Homo sapiens: one gene and its partners. The protein of the gene in region 3 purifies or fractionates together with the protein of the main gene of each other region. This does not show direct contact. Each region holds a gene or a part of one and is shown on either strand. Other genes may lie near its edges.

The links.
Region 1: the proteins of COLEC12 (region 3) and P4HA2 purify together in Homo sapiens (co-immunoprecipitation; one large-scale study listed by IntAct). This does not show direct contact.
Region 2: the proteins of COLEC12 (region 3) and ARHGAP26 purify together in Homo sapiens (affinity purification with mass spectrometry; one large-scale study listed by BioGRID and IntAct). This does not show direct contact.

Annotation. Positions count from the first base shown.
Region 1 is NC_000005.10:132,214,257-132,217,911, forward strand, and holds part of P4HA2 (prolyl 4-hydroxylase subunit alpha-2 isoform 2 precursor), read right to left. Parts: exon of another isoform or gene 3,593-3,655; coding exon 3,496-3,592; intron 3,093-3,495; coding exon 2,941-3,092; intron 1-2,940. UniProt on the Homo sapiens protein: Catalyzes the post-translational formation of 4-hydroxyproline in -Xaa-Pro-Gly- sequences in collagens and other proteins.
Region 2 is NC_000005.10:142,902,769-142,906,423, reverse strand, and holds part of ARHGAP26 (rho GTPase-activating protein 26), read right to left. Parts: intron 2,885-3,655; coding exon 2,755-2,884; intron 1-2,754. UniProt on the Homo sapiens protein: GTPase-activating protein for RHOA and CDC42. Facilitates mitochondrial quality control by promoting Parkin-mediated recruitment of autophagosomes to damaged mitochondria.
Region 3 is NC_000018.10:319,408-322,794, forward strand, and holds part of COLEC12 (collectin-12), read right to left. Parts: intron 2,401-3,387; coding exon 2,255-2,400; intron 658-2,254; coding exon 638-657; 3' UTR 1-637. UniProt on the Homo sapiens protein: Scavenger receptor that displays several functions associated with host defense. Promotes binding and phagocytosis of Gram-positive, Gram-negative bacteria and yeast.

The DNA of each region.
Region 1 (3,655 bases), on a different chromosome or scaffold from region 3:
TACCTACTGCCTGTGTTGCTCTTTGGAACTAAGTAGAAGCAGCCCCCCATATTGGTTAATATTTAGGAGTCCAGAAGTCTTGGCTCCAAATCATTCAGTCAGAGCTGGTGGAGACAGAAGAAACAGAGGATAGAGAGGGTAACTGAGAAGAGCACGGGAGAGGACTCAGGAAGAACTGTCAACCACTCAGTGGAAAATAAATCCCATGGAAAACCTTGATCCAGGGTAATTGGGCTAGTCAGGTAAACACAGACTTCCAGCACACATTTCAAGTTGAGGAGTCCAAGGGACAATGACAGTTAACTAATGAAGCCGAGCTGGCCACTCATTACTGACCACTGGCACTTATCATCCAGAAAGGTGATGATGAAAGTCCTGGAAGTCATCCCCCTCCCCCTAGGTTGACAGCTGAAGGACCACCTAGACAGGCCAAGGACCAAGGTGGGGTTGCACCAACCCAGCAAGGTCCGTCCCCTAAGAGACCACGGTGGGCCTGTTCTCCTCTGTACTCCCACCACTCAGACCTTCAATGAGTTCAGGGCATGGGCTCTCCAGTTATGGTGCTCAAGACCACAGCCTGAAGCGTGGGAGAGCTTTTGACCACAGAAGTACTCCAAGGAGGCTTTTCTGGGACTCCAAGCCCTAGCTGTAAAGTAAGATGTGTACCTCCTACAATCCCAGGTGGGAGCCAAGCCTTCCCAGGCTGACTTAGGGCCTTCAATTCTGCCTCTAAGCTGAGAAGTGAGAGGGGAACAACAAGGCCATTCCTTCCCCAACCTCTTCCCAAGAGTAGCTGTATCCACTGCCACCTATGACTTCAGACCTAAACATCCACTTCAGCCATAACTGGGGACAGGGACCAAGAAGCTGTAACCCTGCCTTCCTTGTCTTCATAGCTACATGGTCAGGGACTCTAAAGAGTTTAGAATCTGGTGGGGTGGGAGTAGGGGAACATGCTGCCAGGAAAAGCCACACTGTCAGCATGCCCTGCTCGTTTCAGGGGCAAGAACTCAAAGTCAGAGATGAAAACAACCAATTATTCTCTGGGCCTGCCCTATCTCCTTCCAGGTAATCATAAGGTTTTCCAAAGGAACCAGATGATGGTGGGAGTGTAGGGTGTGGAGAACAAGATTGGAGAGAGGAGGTCATCTGGGTAGGCTTAGTCTCCTGCCGTGCAGGCAGAACAGCCTGTCCCGAGCTGCAGGCCCAGGCGGAGAGGCGGGAGTCTGGGAAAGGCAGCCGTGGTTTCTGGAGGCAGTGAGCTCACTGGGCACAGCTCCAGCCTGGCTGAGCTCACCAATCCCTCTCCAGAGGCCACCCTGCCCCCAGGCCCAACCCAGTCTGGCCACATGGGCTAAAATGTCTCAGCCAGAGAGACAGCTAGTCTGAAGTTAATCAGCACTCACAGCTCAGGGAAAAGAGGCAGTGAAGAGCTGGGTACAATGGCACTGTGCCTATAGTCCCAGCTACTCAGGAGGCTGAGGCAGGAGGATCACGTGAGGCCAGGAGTCCAAGGTTGCAGTGTGCTACAATCGCACCTGTGAATAGCCACTGCACTCCAGTCTAGGCTAATATAGTGAGACCCTGTCCCTTTAAAAAAAAAAAAAAAAAAAAAAAAAAAGGCAGCGGGCATGGTGGCTCACACCTGTAATCCCAGCACTTTGGGAGGTGGAGATGGGTGGATCACGAGGTCAAGAGATCAAGAACATCCTAGCCAACATGGTGAAACCCTGTCTCTACTAAAAATACCAAAAAAAAATTAGCTGGGCATGGTGGCATGTGCCTATAGTCCCAGCTAGTCAGGAGGCTGAGGCAGAAGAATTGCTTGAACCCGGAGGCAGAGGTTGCAGTGAGCCGAGATCCCGCCACTACACTCCAGCCTGGTGACAGAGTGAGACTCAGTCTCAAAAAAAAAAAAAAAAAAAAAAAAAGTCAGTGAGTCCAGGGGACTAAACCCAGGGCTAGGAGTTAGGAGAGCCCACCTCCAGGCCCACCGTACCATCTCTTCTTATTGACAGAAAAGTATTAGGGCATAAAAAGTATTATCACAATAAAAGCACCAAGTATAGTTTAAAGCTTTTAAAAAGTTCACACTCTCATCGGTAATATCACTTCTAGGAACTTACCCTAAAAAAGTAATCAGAAGTATACACCAAGAAATATGTAAAAAGGTGCTGATAATTCAGAAAAAATCCCATATCCAATGACTTGACCCATTTGACAGTATTATCAGTATGACAGATTATCACCATCTGACAGGTAATCACCATCCAGCCATTAAAATCATGTTGCAGAAGAACATTGAATGGCATATAAAGAAGCTGAGAAATTCACAGAATTTTTTCTTCTGTCACAAATCTACCAACAGATATGCTTTGTTTGTAAAACATATGAATAGGAATGAATTTAGATCAGACCTATGCTCCCCAACTTGCCCTGGCCCCACCATCCAGCCCACTTGACACTTGTAAATTCATTGTCCCTCCAAGCAACTGAGTTTGCATGCCCTGGTATGTATGTATAGTTCCATTTTTTAAATGTATATGCATAGGTAGAAAAACTACAATTTTAATAATGCTCACCACTGGGCAACTGGATTAAGAATTATAATTCTCTTGTTTTTGTGTTTTCCGACTTTTCTATAAACATGTATCACTAAAGTATAATTGGAAAAATGTCATTAGCAAAAAATAAGAAAAGACAGACACTAAAAAAAAGACGCTAAAAAAAGAACTGAACATCATTACATGTTAAAAACCAAGGCCAGCCAACTTCCAGGTCCCCACAGAGAAGGGAGAGAGCCATGAGACCAGCAGGGTCCTGTTTCCACAATGTACTTGCCCACCAACACCCAGACCCAAGACAGGCTCAGACACAACAACCCAGGCATGAGCACACAAACATATGGGCTCACTCAAGCACCTGCTCACCGTCCCTCACCTGCAGCTGAGTCCTGCAGGACAAGGTCCTCCAGCGCAGGCCAGTCTGTGTTTAGCCGCTTCACCAGTTTGTAGGCATTCACAGGGTGAGCCAGGTAGCCCTCAGCATCAGCAGCTGACTTGCTAGTCAAGGCTTCCATTTTGTTGGCCCAGCTGTGGAACCAGAGGAAAAGGAAGACTAATGCGTCCACCCACATAGGTCTTGACCTGTGACAATTTTCCTAGTGAGAATTCCCTGGTGCCAGGTTCTGGGGCCCTTTTCATCAAGAGGCAATGAAAAATGAATACAGTAACTCCCCACAGATACTTCTAGCCCCTTAATCTAGATAACAGCTGGGACCCCCAATGTAAGGGAAAAGGTCTTAAATAGAAAATAAACAGTGACTCCTTAGCCCATGTACTTAGCTCCTCTCAAGCACTGGCATGAAGTAACCAGGCCAGCCCCACATCACCCTCTCAAAGGTTTCCTCTTATAGGCACCCTGGATGGCTTCCTTGTTCCTTGAGGGGCAGAAGGGAAGGAAGGCCAACTAAGGATGGTTGGGGACTTAGGACACCTCTTAATCTTGGAAAGCTTGGCTTCCTCCACAAGGATGTACTCTTTCAGAGACTGCACCAGCTCTTTCTCTGCATAAATCAGGTCAGTCATGTGCCCTGCAAGGGAGAGAAGAAAGACACCAGTGAGAAACAGATGAGGGATGTCCAGCCTCCTTCCTT
Region 2 (3,655 bases), on a different chromosome or scaffold from region 3:
TGGAACTGAGAAGTCACCATTTTGCAACCATCATAGTAAAGATCAGCTCAGGCAAGGATTGTCAATGGATGCTAAATCTATGGAGGTAAAGTGTGATAAGGAGAAGGATATTTACATGATCTTAAGGTGTTACCTTCAGATTGCTAATTAGTTACAAGGGGAAAATAGTGACTGTATAGTGGAGAAACCAGACAATACCTTGACTGGGTGATCAAAATTTACATCACCACTGAGGGGCAGGTCGACACCACATGTGTCCAGATGTGGCCCCAGAGAAGAACTCTTATGTAGGATTTGACCAGAGATGCATAATCCAAATCTAATCATGAAGAAACACCAGATAAACCCATGCTGAAGAAAACTGTATAAAGGAACTGGACTGTGTTGTTCAAAAATGTCAATGTCATGAAAGACAAAGAAAAGCTGGAGAACTGTTCCAGATTAAAGGAGACTAAAGTCATGACAACTAAATGCAGTATGAGGTTCTGTACTGGAGAACAACAAAATGCTTTAGAAGGCCATTATTGATACAACTGGCAAAACTGGAATACGGACTGTAGTTCAGATTAAATATTGCACCAATGTTAAATTTGATATTAGGTTGGTGCAAGAGTTCAATTGCGATTTTAGCCATTACTTTTAATGGCAAGAGTTCAATTGCGATTTTAGCTATTACTTTTAATGGCAAAAACCATAATTACTCTTGCACCAACCTAACAGATGTGTTTACATAAAAAGAATATCTTTTATTCTTAGAAAATACTCACTACTGAAGAAGCATGGTATATGCAACCATATTCTCAAATGACTCAGAAAAAAGTGTGTATGTGTGTGTATGCAAGTTGTACTCACGTGAATACTCACACACCCACACAGAGAGAGAAGGAATGATATCATTGTGGCTAAATGTTAAAAATTGATGCACTGGGTAAAGGGTTTATGGTTGTTCCTTACACCATTGTTGCGACTTTTCTGTATGTCTGAAATTATTTCAAAATAACAAGTTACAAAAAATTTAAAATTAAAAAAAAAGTGCTGTATCCCCATCATGTGCTCTGGACTGTGTTAGGGAACAAAAAAGTGTCCTCATGATAATCAACACACTAATGTTGAAAGAGCATGTGAAGTGTCTGAATAAAAGTGTGTGACATGAGAGTGCAAAAAAACAACATTGATTTTATATATGTAAGTGAATGATATATTAACAAATTAAGTATTATAGGTGGACTTTGAACTATATTTTTAGAGTCCTAAAAATTTATATTTTCAAGTAGACCTAAAACCTTTTGCAGGGATCTTCTCACTGGGCAAAGAGGGGATCACTTTGTATTCAGGCATATACAAAACACACAGCTGAAGTAGCTACATTTCTTATAAACCTCAACAGGCTCATCTCTGTAAGAATAAGGAATGTAATCCTCATCACAGCCAATACTCCAACACCACTACTGCCCCAGTTACCAGGAAACTTAAGTCCAAACAAATTTTTGAGTAATTACTAAATAGAATAATTAGTGAAACCAAGTATTTCTATTCTATCCCATCGGAAAGCTATTAGGAGTGAAGACATCTGCCTAACTCTACATGAAGAGCAGGACATGAAAGAACACAAAACCTGCAAAAATCTGAAAAGACCAATGTTCTCTACCAAAGGACTAGGAGAAGAATTACCCACTAAAGAAAAAAACATTCACTTTCTTTCGTTCCTAGCATTGCATACACGAATTAAGTCTGAATGTGCTATCCTAAACGGCACGGCCCCATCACAGAGCCTTTCCCCAGCCATAAGGCATGAACTTGTGAGTCATCACTAAAATGTCCATGTTAGCAGCACCTGGCATTCCTTTCCTAGACATCACTGGCAGAACAATGAGTATTCTTGGCTCTTTTTTTTTTTTCTTTTAAGAGACAGGGTCTTGCTCTGTCACCCAGGCTGGAGTACAGTGGTGGCAATCTCAGCTCACTGCAGCCTCCACCTCCTGAGCTCTTATAAACCTCAACAGGCTCACTCCGGTAAGCAATCCTCCCACCTCAGCCTCCCAAGTAGCTGGGCCCACAGGTGCACACCACCACACCTGGCTACTTTTTGTATTTTTGTAGAGACAGGGTTTCACTATGTTGCCCAGGCTGGTCTTGAACTCCTGAGCTCAAGCAATCCACCGACCTCAGCCTCCAAAAGTGCTGGGATTACAGACGTGAGCCACCGCATGCAGCCTTCTTCTTGGCTCTTGAAGTGAGCCTTTGTTCCTACTTTTCATAAAATTCAAGTGTTGGAATGAAATGAGTTGAGGAGAAGAGGAAAAAGGCCTAAGTCATGATTGTTTGGGCCTTGCTGAAACAATGTCAAATGAAAACAGAATCACCAAGTATTAAGTCTACCAAAGGATACACTGCTGATAGATAACAGGGGCCTAGCATGTAAGACCTTTCCAAGGCTGCTATGCTCAGGGTATGGTACATAAAGCTGGACTAGGGGTACAGGAACCCCAAGAGTAGAGTAACATTAGAGAGAGAAGAGCAACCACAGAGCCTTAAAGAATTGCAGGTTCCCAAAGGAATTCCCATTCATAAAGAAAAACAAAGGTAGACAAGATTCTGTGGACATCATCTTTCTCTTTGGAAAGGTGAACTATAAAATTGTTCTTGTTATCCAAGCATGTATCTACAGTAAGGTAGGCACTGCTGAATACATCCTCCACCTTCTAGGTAAGAGGCCTGAGTACATCCCAAGCTGTTGCTAGTCAAAGCACTCACGTTTCTCCTGCACGTAGAGGTATCCCTCCATGGTGTAGGGACTGATGGTCTTGTGCTCAAGGGGATTCTCCTTCATCTTTTTCATCAGTGATTCCACTTCTGATCTAGTGCCTTCAAAGCGATTTCTTGTCTAGGATGAAAATAATTTTATTCAAATCAAAGAAACAAAGTATCTGTTTTAACAATCCAGATCAACCTAATAGAATCCTTAGATCTAAAATGAGATAAAGGACATTCAACCTTCCAGGAACTGGCCAAATACTCCCTTATGACAAGTATACTTTGGCCTTAAAGTCCTATACCAGAATGACTCTCAAACTCTAGTGACTATCAAAATCACCTAGGGATCTTATAGAAAATGCAAATGCCCAGCCCTCACTCCTACAGATCAATTCAGCACCTCTGGATGCCAAAAAGTGTGTTTTACGATAAGCCTCCCAGGTGATTCTGATTCAGATGCTCTAGGGGCCTGTATGACTTAAGGACCTAGGCGTTCATTTCTCCAGCTGCCATGAATGTTGCTTGCTGATGGCTCACAGATGAGTCCCTCCTTAAAAGGGGAGTTCCTTCACTCAAGGTCAGCCTGCACCCAATGACTAGACAAGGCTAGAGGAAAGGCAGAAGGGGGTTGAAAGCCTGGCCCCCTTGCTTGTATTCAGGGCGACTTTGAAGGATCATCCCAGCTCCAGAGCCTCCCCTGCACTGAGACCTCTGCTGCATCTGCATCACAGCTCTATTTCCCCCTCTGCGAGTCCAGGTGCCCTCACTCTGTCACAGGTGTTTTCACCAGCATTGCCCCCACCTCCAGTAAGCCCACTGCATGTCAATCTCGATTTCAGAGCCTGCATTCTGAGAAACCTGGCCTAAGGGGAAGCCATGCTTTGTGAAACCTTTTCCAAGA
Region 3 (3,387 bases):
ATTCTTTGCCACTGGGTAGAATTAAATCTGACAGGAAACCCTAGGAGTTTTTATTAGTACCATTATTGTTTTCTTTGGCTCCATGTATTATGTCGGTAAAATGACAAAAAAAAAAAAAGGAAAAAAATTGTAAAAGACAAATATTTTGTACAAAAATACAAAGTTTTAAAAGCTCTTTAAGTATATTTCATATTATTACTAATAGTTGGCCTATATATCTGTATGTCTGCATATTTTTCCTACACTTGGGATTTTAGAAATGTATGGCACTGTTTACACAGTATATGCTTAAGTTCTTCCCATAACTCAACGACCAATGATAACCTTTTTCTGATTGGAGTGTTCCATACTTTGGAAGACATAATTTGTATAATCGCACGGTTACTGACGGAGGAGAATCTATGTGATTCAGTCCATGTGCACAATGAAAATCAGCATATCACCCTGGGGAACATTTTAGTTCCCAAGTCTTTGGGTAATGACGGATGGTAAAAAACACTAGCTGTCAATTTTTTTTCAGTAATTGGTTTTCAGTGCTTTTTTTTTTTCAATCTGATGAGAAGGTGATGCAATTAGAAAGGAGTGTCCTTTGCCTTTGAGAGCTGAAAATTTGCTCATGTGATCCCATCACAGTCCGTTATAATGCAGATGACAGTACTAAAAGAGAGAAATAAGAATGGGCATTAGTTTTTCTTAAATAATAAAGTTAATGTGCAATTCAAAAAAAGGGAACGTGTATTTTTATAGGACAGTGTCTAAAATACATCATTCAACAATGCTTATATTTTCAAAGAAATGTCTAGAAGATCTTATTTGGATGAAAAGATAAGTTTCATTTTGAAAAGCCAAGTTTCATTTTGAAAAGCCTATTCTGGGAAAGCCTGGTCCCTACTCAAATCCCAAATGGCCAAACAAAGCATACAAAAGACAAATCTGAGTTACTTGTCACCATCAATTATAATCCCTTGTTTAGATATCTGTGTTTTTCCCCCTCAACTGACCCAGCTGTGAGTTCCTATGTGTCTTAAGGTCCCTAGCACTTGGACCAATGCCTGACACATCAAAGGTGCTCAGTAACTGTCTGTTGAATGGCAATACGGATAATTTATGCCCCAGTTACTTCCAAAAATAGTTTGACCAAAATATATTTGAGGTTTTTGTTTTTATATGAACAGCTTTATTGAAATATAATTGACAAATTGTATAATTCACCCATTTAAAGCATATAATTCAGTGGTCTTTGGTATAGTCACAAAGTTATGCAATTTAGAACCAATCTAATCTAATTTTAGAACATTTCCATCACCCCAAAAAGAAACCCCATACCCATTAGCATTCATTCCCCATTTCCTCTGTCCCCTATCACAAACTTTTAATCTCATTCTGGTGAAGAAAACTAAGATGCCACATTCCAAAGAGGGTCGTGTGTTAAATGAAGCTTTAGATACATAGCCTTTGAAGTCAAGAAAATCTCCAAAAGCTGCTTTGGCTTATGAGCTGATAAGCAGCACAGACCATCTCCCTCTATTATGTATCACAGGATCTGGCCTATAGTAGATGCTCAATAGATACACGTGGAATTGAACGCTTGGCCACCTGGATTAGCTGTGTATGGATGTCTACGGAAAAGAACTAACATTGGTGCTATATCTCTTTTCTTTTTTGAGATGGAGTTTCGCTGTTGTTTCCCAGGCTGGAGTGCAATGGTGCGATCTCGGCTCCCCACAACCTCTGCCTCCTGGGTTCAAGCTATTCTCCTGCCTCAGCCTCCTGAGTAGCTGGGATTACAGGCATGCGCCACCATGCCCGGCTAATTTTGTATTTTTAGTAGAGATGGGGTTTCTCCGTGTTGGCCAGACTGGTCTCAAACTCCCAACATCAGGTGATCTGCCCGCCTCCACCTCCCAAAGTGCTGGGATTACAGGCGTGAGCCACCGTGCCTGGCTGGTGCTATATTTTAAAGAACAATTAACTCACAATATAAGATACTTATGTGGGTCAGTTAGTTTAGCATTCGTTGAGTACTTCCTACATGTGAGGCACATTTATTAACTTATTTAAATCTTCACAACCTCGTGAAGAAGATGCTATTACTATTTCCCTGAGGTTAATCACCTGCCCAGTTAATAAATGGCATAACCAGGGCTGAAACCTAATTGCAGTGCCTGCATTCAGGGCCCTTGTACTCACCACCCCTCACCCTTTCATAGGACATAAGCTGGCAGCTCCCTCTTAAATCCCATCTACTGCTCACCTGTCTCCCTGTCTTTTTCGCAAATGAAGTTATTGACGTCTTCACATTGGAAATCGTTCCACTGCCCAGCATAAATCAACCCAGCACAGTCTTCTCCTGGCCCATGGCCATGACCCCAGTTATCCGGCTGTCCAGCTTTCCAATTTCTTTTAGCAAAACAGAAATTGAATGTTATTTGCACAGTAATGCAGAGCTTTTCTTTACTCAAGAGCAGCAGAGAATATAAAAAAACAAAATTGAAGCATGTCATTTATCCTGGAATGAAAATGCAGTTTAAAAATCAGTACATGCTCTTATTCAGAGAAAGGAGCAGCTGTTTTGCAGAGTAATGCATAATGCGGCATCTCCCTGCGCGCTTGTGATCTTTGCTACCATGAACCAAACTCACTAGGCTGGTTCATCAGAATGCAGAGGGAGCGAATCTTGCTTTGGGACAGTTAGATGAATAACTTTCTAATGTGTACTGGAATGCTGACTTCTGGGCATGAGTGTATATATGTGTGTGAATATCTATTCATTATGAGGACATGATACACACACACACACACACACACGCACACATGATCTTGTGAGAACCCAGAGGGACCTTGTACATTTCAATATCTTGCCTCTAACAAGTCCAAGAGCCAGGAAGAGAAAGTGAAAGACTTTTGATATACATTTACAAGAACCTACAATTACAAATAACTGGTTATGATTGTCTGGGTGAGTTGTAGAAGGTTGATTGCTTTAGAAAGAAATAGTAACTTAATCTTACTGAAAATGACTCCTACATTTCACTCCCTTTTTTGGGAGAGAGATTCTTAAAAACAAGTTTTCTTTAGGATGAGTTCACATGGGGCTTCTTAACTTGGATGCTGCTGCTCAGAACAGCACCTTGCCATGGATAACAGTTCTTGATTACGTTTCCACGAATAAATCAGGTGTGCTTCCAGACTCACCCCTTGAAGGTTCAATCTTGTCTAAGAAGCAGATTCATGCACAGAAGCTTGTGGCTGCTGCCTGAGAGGACAAGCCTGCCTCATGTGGAGGGTCTGGAAGAACATCTGCAGCGGAGGGTGCTTCCTATAAACAATGACTCATTACCGCACTGGCCACAGGGTGTCCTCGGGTCACCCGAGGAGACAGCCTGT